3 linked regions of the Homo sapiens genome follow. The protein of the gene in region 3 purifies or fractionates together with the protein of the main gene of each other region. This does not show direct contact. Each region holds a gene or a part of one and is shown on either strand. Other genes may lie near its edges.

Region 1 (3,935 bases), on a different chromosome or scaffold from region 3:
CTCAGCACTCCGAGGGCAGTGGCCACAGTCTCAGAACCCCACAGCTCCAGGCCCTCGAGCCACACTCATGCCGCCCCTCTACCTAGAATGCTCTTCCCTTCCACTTGGCTAATGGAGGGGGAAAAGCATTTCCTCTCCTCCAGGAAATGTTCCTAACCAAGTCCCCTGGGAATCACCCAGTACCTCTCAGGAGAACTTTCCACATTTATTATCTTACCGTTATCCAAGGGCTGATATGCTCAATCCCTGCACCAGCCAGTGAGGGAGGAGGCCAGAGACCAAGTTTGGCTGGTTCCTCAGGGTATCCCCAGGTCCCCAAGCAGCGTCTGCAGCACAGCAGATGCTCACTGATGCTCATCCACCTGTGATGCCTGAATGCATGAAGGCAGGCTCCGCATAGCCCTTTCATTCCTATGGATGTCCCCCACACCACCCAGCCACCATTTAGAGGCATAAGAACGGGGTCCAAGCTAAAGGTCAGGTGGTTCCCCCACCCCCAGTCTCAAGGAGTCCATGGGAATTGCTTAATGGCCTCTGATTGTGTAGCCTGCCCAGACATGGGGATGTTTGAGAATTCTGGAAGAACGTGGGCTGGGCGTGGATAGAGACGCCTGCTCCACCATGTATGCTGGAGGTGTGGATTACAACCCCTGTCCCCCATTGGAGCTTCCCGCGCCGTAATTAGCCTTGATCGCCTCATCCTGGCACACTAGGGCCAGCCACCTAGCAAATGAGTGGTCCCCACACTCCATCCCCATCCGCCCACCCCTCACAGCCCCGCAGGCCAGTTGCCCAGATCCACAGCCCTTACTGCAACCCCTTCAAATCCAGCCACCCTGAGAGATCCTGGCCTGGGAGAACTCTCCTTCCCTGGCCAAAGAAACGACAGGAGAGTTTACTGTCTGGAATACCTGGTGGAGAGAGAACAGAGGAGAGGAAGGGTAGGTCAGCCCCTCTTGCCCCTCCCCACCGCAAATCACACAGGCCCACCTCCCCGGAGTGGGTTTAGGGAGTCTGCACCTCCCAGTCCCCGCCCCCGCCCTCTCTCCAGCGCCCGCCGCCCTCCCCGTCGCGTTTCCTGCCCCCACCCCGCCCCTCTGCGCTATTTAAGGCGCCCCCGCCGCTCGTGCGGTCCAGCAGGGCTCCCGCGGGCGTCACTCCGGCCATCGTCCCCACCTCCACCTGGGCCGCCCGGCAGGCAGGCGGTGAGTCGGGGGCTAGGAAGGGACCAGGGGCGCCACCTGCTCGCGGGAGGCCGGGAGGAGTCTTGGGTCCTCCGATGCCGGGACGGGGGTTGCTGCGGAACGCCCGCCGCGACAGAGCCGCGCTCACCCAGGTGGCCTTGGCCAGGCTCCCACCCTCTTTCCATGGAATCCTTGTAACAACCCGAGGCGGGAGGAATACTATTGTTTCCACTCTATCGTGGAGGAGACTGAGGGGCCCAGAGGTTGTTCCTTATCCAAGGGGCCGCAGTTACTAAAAGGCAAGATTTGAACCCAGGGCCGCTTCCAGAGCCTGGCTCTAAACAGCTTTGCACTTGGGAAGAGGCACCTCCCCCTTGGGAACTTTGTGGCCTGTGCCTCACCCTGCAATGACAATTCCTTTCAAGAGTCTAGAATTTGCCAGCATCAGCTTTGGAGGTGGAAGGGGGTGGGAGTGGAGGTGGAGGAAGAAGACAGGACCAAATGTCCCTCCTCAAGTGGCAGGTGGTCATTATTGCTGACCGGTGGAGCTAAAGGATGATGCTGCCTTCAGCTCCTAAAACCCCTTCCACTACCCAGCCCCTGCAGGCTCAAAGATTAGAGTGAAGCCAGCTGGGTAAGATATGAGGCGGGGAGCAGGGACCTGAGGCTTTGAGCCCCCTAAGAAGCAGAAGATAACACCTCTACCATCATCACTAGCTCCCACTGTCTGGGGGTAGCCAGCCTTGGGCAAAAGGGAGGAAGGGCTTAGCCCAGCTGCACAACTTTGGATAAGTTCCTCAAATTCTGTTCCCATAGGCAAAGGAGCCTCAACTCCACCCAGATTTCCTTGGCCTGTGTCCATCCTGGGGCAGTGGCTCGGGGACAAGAGGGACATAGATGTCTGATTAGGCAGGGACCTTAGCCAAAGCAGAATGAGACCATACAAAGAGGTGGGCAGCCATCATCCAAAAATCTGGGTTGGGTCCTGCCTGCACTGCTGAGTGGGAGCCTCCAGGCCAGTCCTTCCCCTTCCTGAGCCTGGGTTTCTTTGTAGGTAGAACGGGCGTGGCAGACCTCCCTGCAGGCTTGTTGCTGGGCGAACGAGAAGGATGCCATGCTGACACACTGACGTGCTCTGTCTCCTTGCAGACGGAGGCCCGGGAGCCATGGGTGACTGGGGCTTCCTGGAGAAGTTGCTGGACCAGGTCCAGGAGCACTCGACCGTGGTGGGTAAGATCTGGCTGACGGTGCTCTTCATCTTCCGCATCCTCATCCTGGGCCTGGCCGGCGAGTCAGTGTGGGGTGACGAGCAATCAGATTTCGAGTGTAACACGGCCCAGCCAGGCTGCACCAACGTCTGCTATGACCAGGCCTTCCCCATCTCCCACATCCGCTACTGGGTGCTGCAGTTCCTCTTCGTCAGCACACCCACCCTGGTCTACCTGGGCCATGTCATTTACCTGTCTCGGCGAGAAGAGCGGCTGCGGCAGAAGGAGGGGGAGCTGCGGGCACTGCCGGCCAAGGACCCACAGGTGGAGCGGGCGCTGGCGGCCGTAGAGCGTCAGATGGCCAAGATCTCGGTGGCAGAAGATGGTCGCCTGCGCATCCGCGGAGCACTGATGGGCACCTATGTCGCCAGTGTGCTCTGCAAGAGTGTGCTAGAGGCAGGCTTCCTCTATGGCCAGTGGCGCCTGTACGGCTGGACCATGGAGCCCGTGTTTGTGTGCCAGCGAGCACCCTGCCCCTACCTCGTGGACTGCTTTGTCTCTCGCCCCACGGAGAAGACCATCTTCATCATCTTCATGTTGGTGGTTGGACTCATCTCCCTGGTGCTTAACCTGCTGGAGTTGGTGCACCTGCTGTGTCGCTGCCTCAGCCGGGGGATGAGGGCACGGCAAGGCCAAGACGCACCCCCGACCCAGGGCACCTCCTCAGACCCTTACACGGACCAGGTCTTCTTCTACCTCCCCGTGGGCCAGGGGCCCTCATCCCCACCATGCCCCACCTACAATGGGCTCTCATCCAGTGAGCAGAACTGGGCCAACCTGACCACAGAGGAGAGGCTGGCGTCTTCCAGGCCCCCTCTCTTCCTGGACCCACCCCCTCAGAATGGCCAAAAACCCCCAAGTCGTCCCAGCAGCTCTGCTTCTAAGAAGCAGTATGTATAGAGGCCTGTGGCTTATGTCACCCAACAGAGGGGTCCTGAGAAGTCTGGCTGCCTGGGATGCCCCCTGCCCCCTCCTGGAAGGCTCTGCAGAGATGACTGGGCTGGGGAAGCAGGTGCTTGCTGGCCATGGAGCCTCATTGCAAGTTGTTCTTGAACACCTGAGGCCTTCCTGGTGCCCACCAGGCACTACGGCTTCCTCTCCAGAATGTGGCTTTGCCTGAGCACAGACAGAGTCAGCATGGAATGCTCTTGGCCAAGGGTACTGGGGGCCCTCTGGCCTTTTGCAGCTGATCCAGAGGAACCCAGAGCCAACTTACCCCAACCTCACCCTATGGAACAGTCACCTGTGCGCAGGTTGTCCTCAAACCCTCTCCTCACAGGAAAAGGCGGATTGAGGCTGCTGGGTCAGCCTTGATCGCACAGACAGAGCTTGTGCCGGATTTGGCCCTGTCAAGGGGACTGGTGCCTTGTTTTCATCACTCCTTCCTAGTTCTACTGTTCAAGCTTCTGAAATAAACAGGACTTGATCACAAGTAGGTGTGTATTGATGCTATCATGATGTGCTGGGGGTTGGGGGATAGAGT
Region 2 (3,500 bases), on a different chromosome or scaffold from region 3:
CTCCTGGGGATAGGGATTAGACCCTTCCCCCTGCCCACCTGTACATCCCCGTGCCCCTAGTTCTCTGAGTCAGGTGAGGGTCTTTACAAAGGTAACCCCCACTCTTGTCTCCTGGGGCTTTCACTCACCCTCTCTTTTCATTCTCTTACCAACCCTGAAATGTAAGGGGCCCTGCTCCAGCTGGGAACCCAAAGCTGTTTGAGGTAAAGGGGTGGAGCTAGGAATCTGAGGCTCCTCCCACAGCATGGTGCCTTCCCTCCTGGCCCTGGCCACTGCTGATGCCCCTGTACCTTAAACTACCTACATTCTCTGTAGCTTCAGGGACTCCCCCAAGGGGGTGGGGAGCAGAGGGGAGTGACCACTCTAGGATTGAAGGGACAGACTGGCCTATCATTCATGGGTGGTGGAGAGGGAGTTGGCCCCAGCCACCAGCCAGAGCTGCCCTTGCATGACCCCTCCCTCCTGCCTAGACTTTTTTCTGCCCAAAGTCTGTGGCTGGGGTTTACCTACTCCTTCCAGCGGGCATTCCAAAAGCCCGACAGAGCCTGTTCCCCAGGCATCTCTGGTGTTCCTCTTACTGGAAACAGTAGGGAGACTGAGTGGTGGCCGAGAGCACAGCAGAGGAGGCCAGGGGGCCTCTAGGCCCCACCCCTCCTCGGCCCTACTGTGCCATGCGTACACTAGGTCCTTGGCAGGCAGGGTCCCAGGGTGCAGTGGCCCTAGGCAGCCCCCATTTCAAGATACCACTCAGAGCCAGGCCATTTCTGGCTCCTATCTGGGACCCTAGGAGGCATGTCTGCTCCTGCACCCCTGACCCTGGCTTGGCCCCTGTCCTACCCACCTAAACCACAGCAGCCCTCAGCTCTCAGCTGCAGCGCTCCCTTAAGACAGACACTGAATTTTATCCACAGAATCCTCACTCATATCCTGGTAGCCTCATTAACAGCCATGCTAAACAAGTGAATGACCATATGAAGGAACCGTGAATGAATGGATGGATGAATGGATGGATGCTGCCGACCCAGATACACCCTGCCAGGGTGGGCTCCATGCAGCCCGCAGCATCAGGGGCAGAAGGCCTGGGGGCCTGAGCATGCCGGTTGCCTGGTTACAGGATACACATTCACAGCCCCAGGGAGCCACGCGCTCAAGAGCCCTCCTTCCCACTTCGCACAGGGCTTTGATCAGTGCTTCAGAAACACTCTGCCACAGCTCTGCCGCGGGAGAAAGGCCCTGGCAGGTAGGAGAGCCGGCTCCTGATCTCTTTCAGCCCCTCCCCCCTCACCTCTGTGGGCTGAGATGAGAATGGCTGCTGGGGAGGGACCACAGCCTCTCACACCAGGGGAAGTGAGGCTCCTGGCTTCAGAGGGAAGAGAATTCCCTGCATGGATAGGGCCTGGCTATGCCCCACCTCCCCATCCAGGCTGTGCCCACCTGTCAGCCACTCAGTCTCCCTCTGGAACAGGTTTGATACTGAGCCCAAGTGGCTGCCCTTGTGGCTGGTGCCTTCCTGGCACACTCTGCCCTGGGCAAGGCCTCAGCCCAGCTGGCCCCTGGGGACCTGCTAAGTCTGGGGCCATAGGAATGAGAAGTGATGTTAGAAGCGAAGCCTCTGCTTCCTTGGCCTCCCTACCTCAGCCTCAGCTTCTCTCTTTGTTCTGTGCTCCAAGTCAGTGGGCTGATCCCCCTTTCAGAGGAAGAGCAAAGTAGCCGATGGCTGCCAGGGCCCAGTCTCAACTAGGTTGAGCCCCAGGGCAGGGAGGCACAGGAGGGGAAGTGGGGCCAGAACCACCTTCTCCAAGACCAGCCCTGCTCTGTCTGGTACCCAGGTAGGGAAGCTGGGTGGCAGATCCCTCTCCCACTCCGCATGCCCCCCAACCCCACTCAGGCTGAGCCAGGGATCCTTGAGCAGCCTGAGCCGACCCGCCCCCTTCAAGGCAATGGGAGAGAGAAGGGAGAAGGGGACAGGAGTCCTGGGTCAAACACAAGACTTGGGTGACCTCAGTCACCAGGGCTGTCCTTCCTACAGGGGAAGGGGCAACTGCCAGACCTGTCTTTGGCAGGGGGGCCTGGCAGAGGAATAGAGGCAGCTCTCAGACAGCCTCGCCGAGATCATGAAGTTGATCCCCTCTGCTCCTGTCTTCTAGGGGGTCTTCACCAGTTGGGGGTCTACAGAGGGTAGGACAGGATGCATGCCCAGTAAGACCTCTTCTCTGTAGCCCCTCCAAGCCCCCAGTTCAGGGCCAAGCACCAAGCAAGCACAGAGTCACCCACCAACAACTTGGAGGGAAGCAGCCTGTCCCAGAGCACTGGACCATTCTGCCCAAAGTTCTCATTTGGAAACCACATAAATATCAGCTTCAGTGCCTCACACCACCCCGTCTCGCCCAGCCAACCACTCCCCTTTTCAAACACTTCTTTAACATTAAACTCGACAACCAAAAATTTACTAAATATCTGCACACGGAAAGCAGTCAGAAGCAAGGGGAGAGGATGACCTAAAAGAAAAGAGGCCAGGAGAGGTGAGGGGAGGCCGGGGGTGGGGGGCAAACGGAAGGGAGAGGAGGCCAGGGGAAGTGAGACGCTGCTTCTCAGCTCAGACACAGCCCGGCCTTGCCAGCCGCCCCTGCTGCTGCTGTGGTGACAACTTCAACAATAGCAGGGGAGCCGCCTGCCCATCGGTGGCCACCATTGCTGCCACTACCACCACCACTGGCCCAGCTGTTGGGATGCCAGCCAGCCCTCTGGGGCGGGGGCTGCAGCAGGCAGAACCCAGCCCAGGCACATGCCAGGCAGCACGCTGGCGAGGAGCCCCGAGACCACAGATGCACGATGCCCGGCAGCCGGAGGGCAGCCGCGTGCCCCACGCGCCATGCCTCCAAGCCTGGGACCGAGTCCTCGGGCCCCCATCCCTTGGCAGGGCCCCTCCGCAGCTCAGGGTCACTCACCCCGAGCTTCCTGCTCTTCATCTTCACGTAGCCTTGCTTGACGATGTCACTGAAATTGGTCGCCATGGTTTTCCCACCTTTTAGGGGCGCGGGGCCTGGCAGAGGCGAGGGGAAGGATGCCCAGGTGCCTGGGTCTCCGGCTCCTCCAATCACCTGTTCCAGACACTCTGTCGGGGCTGCCGCGAGGGGCTGCTCCTCACCTCACCCGCCTCAGCATTGTTCTAGCAGCTCCTTCGCCCCGCGCCTGCTGGAAATAAAAATGACAGGGAGATTAGAGACAGTGACATCTTTCTCTTCCTCTCGCTGTCTCGCTCTCTTTTTTCCTTCCTCTTCCCACACTCCTCCTCTCTCCCTCTTCCCTCCCTCCTTCCTCCCGCCCTTCTTCCTTCCCTTCCCTCCCCACCCCAGGACGACAGAACCATTCAGGAAAACCGAGGTGGAGGCGGCAGTGAGGAAAATGGTCCAGCCCAGTCCCCTCCCTCACGGCTGGGGCTGGCAGTTAACCCCTTCCTGGGAGGACTGGCTCTGGCTCCTACTGTGGAGGTGGGGACC
Region 3 (3,500 bases):
TCATTTTTGATTTTTTAAAAAAGTCATTGTCCAAAGTAATATTACTATGAAGACTATTAACTTTTGCTTTAGTGTTTATGGTAAATGATTTTTAAATCATTACTATTATAATAGAATATAAGATATCCATTAAGCAACTTTTGATGGGTGACACATGAAAAAAAAATCTGAGTTCAATATAAATATTCTATTCTGGGTTTTGACTTGTTTGTTGAATCTGGTAGAAGAGTTTCCTTGGAGGTAGGGACCATGGTTTGGTTTGTTTTTTTCTGCTTAGCTTTTATTTTCAGCATTAGTTGTTTCCTGTGGCTGACCTCAGCTTATATGTCACTTCAGAGACGTTTAGATGGAGGTCTGTCTCTTAAATTGTCCTCTCCTCGGTAACTTACACTTTGTCTACATGTTATATTCACCCAATTTCCCAGACAGAAGCCTGTCTGATCTGTAATTGTGTGTTACCTTCCTAACATTTTTCTCTCCATCCAGAATGTGAACTGCCTTAGTGGAGAAACCCAGCCTGCCTTAATCAACACTGAATCCCTGGCACCTAGGGTAGTACCTGGAACATGTGGTGCATAAACAGAATAAATTGTTAAATAAATGAACAAACAAATACATACCACATGAATAACAAACCCTCGAAAGTGTGTCCTAATTACAGTAGTTATTATGGAAAAGTCACCGGCTAAGCTAAGCTAAGCAGAAGCCGCACAGGGCTGCTGTTTAATTCGGATAGACCTTTAACTCCGAGGCTCAGCTTCCTCCCAAACAAACTGCCTTGCATGTGGTGGGAGATGGTAAGTATTAGATGACTGGGTGAAATAATTAACAACAGCTACTTTACAAGACTTTGGGAAACAAACGTCCCACTACAGAGTTGGAAATATCCTCCAGAAATGTCAATGAAGCTGAATTTGTAGCGTAAAGAGAGTGCTGAGGCAATCATCAAGAATCCCAGTGCACTTCACATTATGCTAAGGGGATCAAGCCAGGCACAGAAAGACAAATATCACATGTCCTCAAGCATCATATTTGGGAGGTTAAAAAAAAAAACCTGAACTTACAGAGATAGAGAGTAGAACCTCTAGAGGTGACCAGAGGCTGGGAAGGGTTGTGGGGAGGGGGATATACAGGGGTTGGTTAATGCATACGAAATACGCTTAGAAGAAAAAGGATCATGTTCAGTAGCACAAGAAGGTGACTACAGTTAACAATAATTTATTATATATTTCAAAATAACTAAAAGAGTGAAATTGGAATGTTCCTAACACAAACAAATGAGAAATACTTGAGGTGATGAATATCCCAATTACCCTAATTTGATCATTACACATTGTATGCTTGTATCAAAATAGCACTGGTACCCCCTAAATATGTACATCTATTATGAATTCATAAAAACTAAGCATTTTTTAAAAAAGAAATTCCTGTCCAAGCATGCCATTTTTATTAAATGTTCTGTTTCAGGAAGAAGGGGGCATTTTCAGGTTGAAGTATCCATACAACTGCCTCAGTTTAACAAGCAGATTTTGGTTTCTTTATATATTAATATCAGAGGGCTGTGGCTTCTGCTGGCTCCTGTTCCAGCATCTCATGGTTGTCATAATTATAGAGTTAGTTCTAATAGCTAAACTAAAGCTTTTCTTGTGTGTATTCATTTTGTTAAGAATAATTGTTTCTGCTTATAGCGATTATAATAATTCTTAGCTACTATAAAAAAGTAAGAGCAGACTATGAATCCTCACATAATACACACACATATACTACAGTATGGAAAATATTAGAGTCAACATTTTACGTTCACAAAGTGAAAGCTTTGCCTCAGAAAAGTTTCTTGCACTTTATTTCTATTTGCTGTAGGCATGAAGAAACAAAATCCTATGTGTGATTAATCATATTTTGAAATGCAAATATGATAAAGTTGGGCATTTCTTAAAATTTACCTAGTAGTATAGCTTGACACCTGCTATGGCTATGCTAGAAATTCATTTTGTAGTTTCAGAGGGAAAAGATCAGCTTCATTAAAAAACAATGAATAAAGTCATTATACATTTGTTCAAATCCACAGGACACATAACCCGGAGAGTGAGCCCTCCTGTAAACTCCAGGCTCTGAGTGATAACGACGTGTCAGTGTGGGTTCAGCAGCTGTAATAAATGGACCACTCTGTAGGGGAGGATGTGCCTGTGTGGGGTAAATGGAGGTAAATGGAAGTGCCTCTCTGTGCTTTCTGGTCAGTTTTGCTGTGAACCTAAAACTGTAAACTGAAACCTAACTAGATTAAGTCTAAAAACAAACAAACCATGTATCATGCAAGACAAGCTATGATTTTAGTGCCTTGCCCTTTCACTATGACCTGGAAAATCCTCACTATATACACTCAGTTATCTGCTCTCACAGGTATTATGAACCCCCTAGTAAACTGGAGCATTTATATACCTGCTGGAGCATTAAACAGCATGAGTAGGCCCAGAGTGACTATTCTGCTCACCTCCCCATCATTAATTTCTATGAGGAACAAAGATGCTTTCTATAGCTTTATATTTTGCTAGTAAAGCAAAACTCCTAGAACAGTACCTCTCACCTTGGCTGCAGGTCAGAGTCACCTGGAGAGAGCTCAAAAATCTTGACACCCAGGCTGTACCCCAGGTCAATTACACCAGACCCTTAAGGGGTGGGATGCAGGCAGCAGTGTTTTCTAAAGTACCCAGGTGATTCCAATGTGCAGCCCAGAGTGAGAACTACTGTCCTAGAAATACAGGAAAAACATCAACAGGGGGCCGGGCGCAGTGGCTCACGCCTGTAATCCCAGCACTTTGGGAGGCCGAGGCGGGCAGATCACGAGGTCAAGAGATTGAGACCACCCTGGCCAACACGGTGAAACCCTGTCTCTACTAAAAATACAAAAATTAGCTGGGCATGGTGGTGTGTGCCAGTAGTCCCAGCTACTCGAGAGGCTGAGGTTGAACCCGGGAGGCAGAGGTTGCAGTGAGCCGATATCGCGCCACTGCACTCTAGCCTGGCAACAGAGCAAGACTCTCTCTCAAAAAAAAAAAAAAAAAAAAATCAGTTGGCTGGTTTGCATGGGGTAAAACCTGATATGTCCAAAATCAAGTGGTTCTGCTCATCTGTAACTACCATCCGTTAACTTGATTTTGAATGGCCTACAGCCAAAGCTGTTAAAATAGTGATTTGGAGGTTATCCTTTAGGAATAAAAGAGGAAAGAACCAGCATATGTCACCAATAATTTATATCCCTTGTTAAAGAGAAAAAAAGGAGTGAGAAGGTGTGTCCTGGACTTGCCAGGTTGTACTTTAAAATTCCACATGCCTGTGGTTTCTTACCTCATCCTCACCCCTCCACTTTCTACTAAACATTGCCAGAATGGGAGACAGGTCGGGCATCTCTCTTCTGGCAATGTCATTATTGCATTCTGTGTTTAGAGGTGGAAAGGGACACAAAATTGTTCTACTTCTCATCTTCCATGGATTTAGGCACT

Evidence for each region. The genes of interacting proteins can lie anywhere in the genome.
Region 1: the proteins of OPRK1 (region 3) and GJA4 purify together in Homo sapiens (affinity purification with western blotting; one study listed by BioGRID and IntAct). This does not show direct contact.
Region 2: the proteins of OPRK1 (region 3) and DOK4 purify together in Homo sapiens (affinity purification with western blotting, with the first as the bait; one study listed by BioGRID). This does not show direct contact.

Annotation. Positions count from the first base shown.
Region 1 is NC_000001.11:34,791,864-34,795,798, forward strand, and holds GJA4 (gap junction alpha-4 protein), read left to right. Parts: upstream 1-1,135; 5' UTR 1,136-1,205; exon of another isoform or gene 1,206-1,483; intron 1,484-2,238; exon of another isoform or gene 2,239-2,333; 5' UTR 2,334-2,350; coding exon 2,351-3,352; 3' UTR 3,353-3,884; downstream 3,885-3,935. UniProt on the Homo sapiens protein: One gap junction consists of a cluster of closely packed pairs of transmembrane channels, the connexons, through which materials of low MW diffuse from one cell to a neighboring cell.
Region 2 is NC_000016.10:57,476,494-57,479,993, forward strand, and holds part of DOK4 (docking protein 4), read right to left. Parts: intron 3,265-3,500; exon of another isoform or gene 3,196-3,264; 5' UTR 3,015-3,195; coding exon 2,949-3,014; intron 1-2,948. UniProt on the Homo sapiens protein: DOK proteins are enzymatically inert adaptor or scaffolding proteins. They provide a docking platform for the assembly of multimolecular signaling complexes.
Region 3 is NC_000008.11:53,231,138-53,234,637, forward strand, and holds part of OPRK1 (kappa-type opioid receptor), read right to left. Parts: intron 1-3,500. UniProt on the Homo sapiens protein: G-protein coupled opioid receptor that functions as a receptor for endogenous alpha-neoendorphins and dynorphins, but has low affinity for beta-endorphins.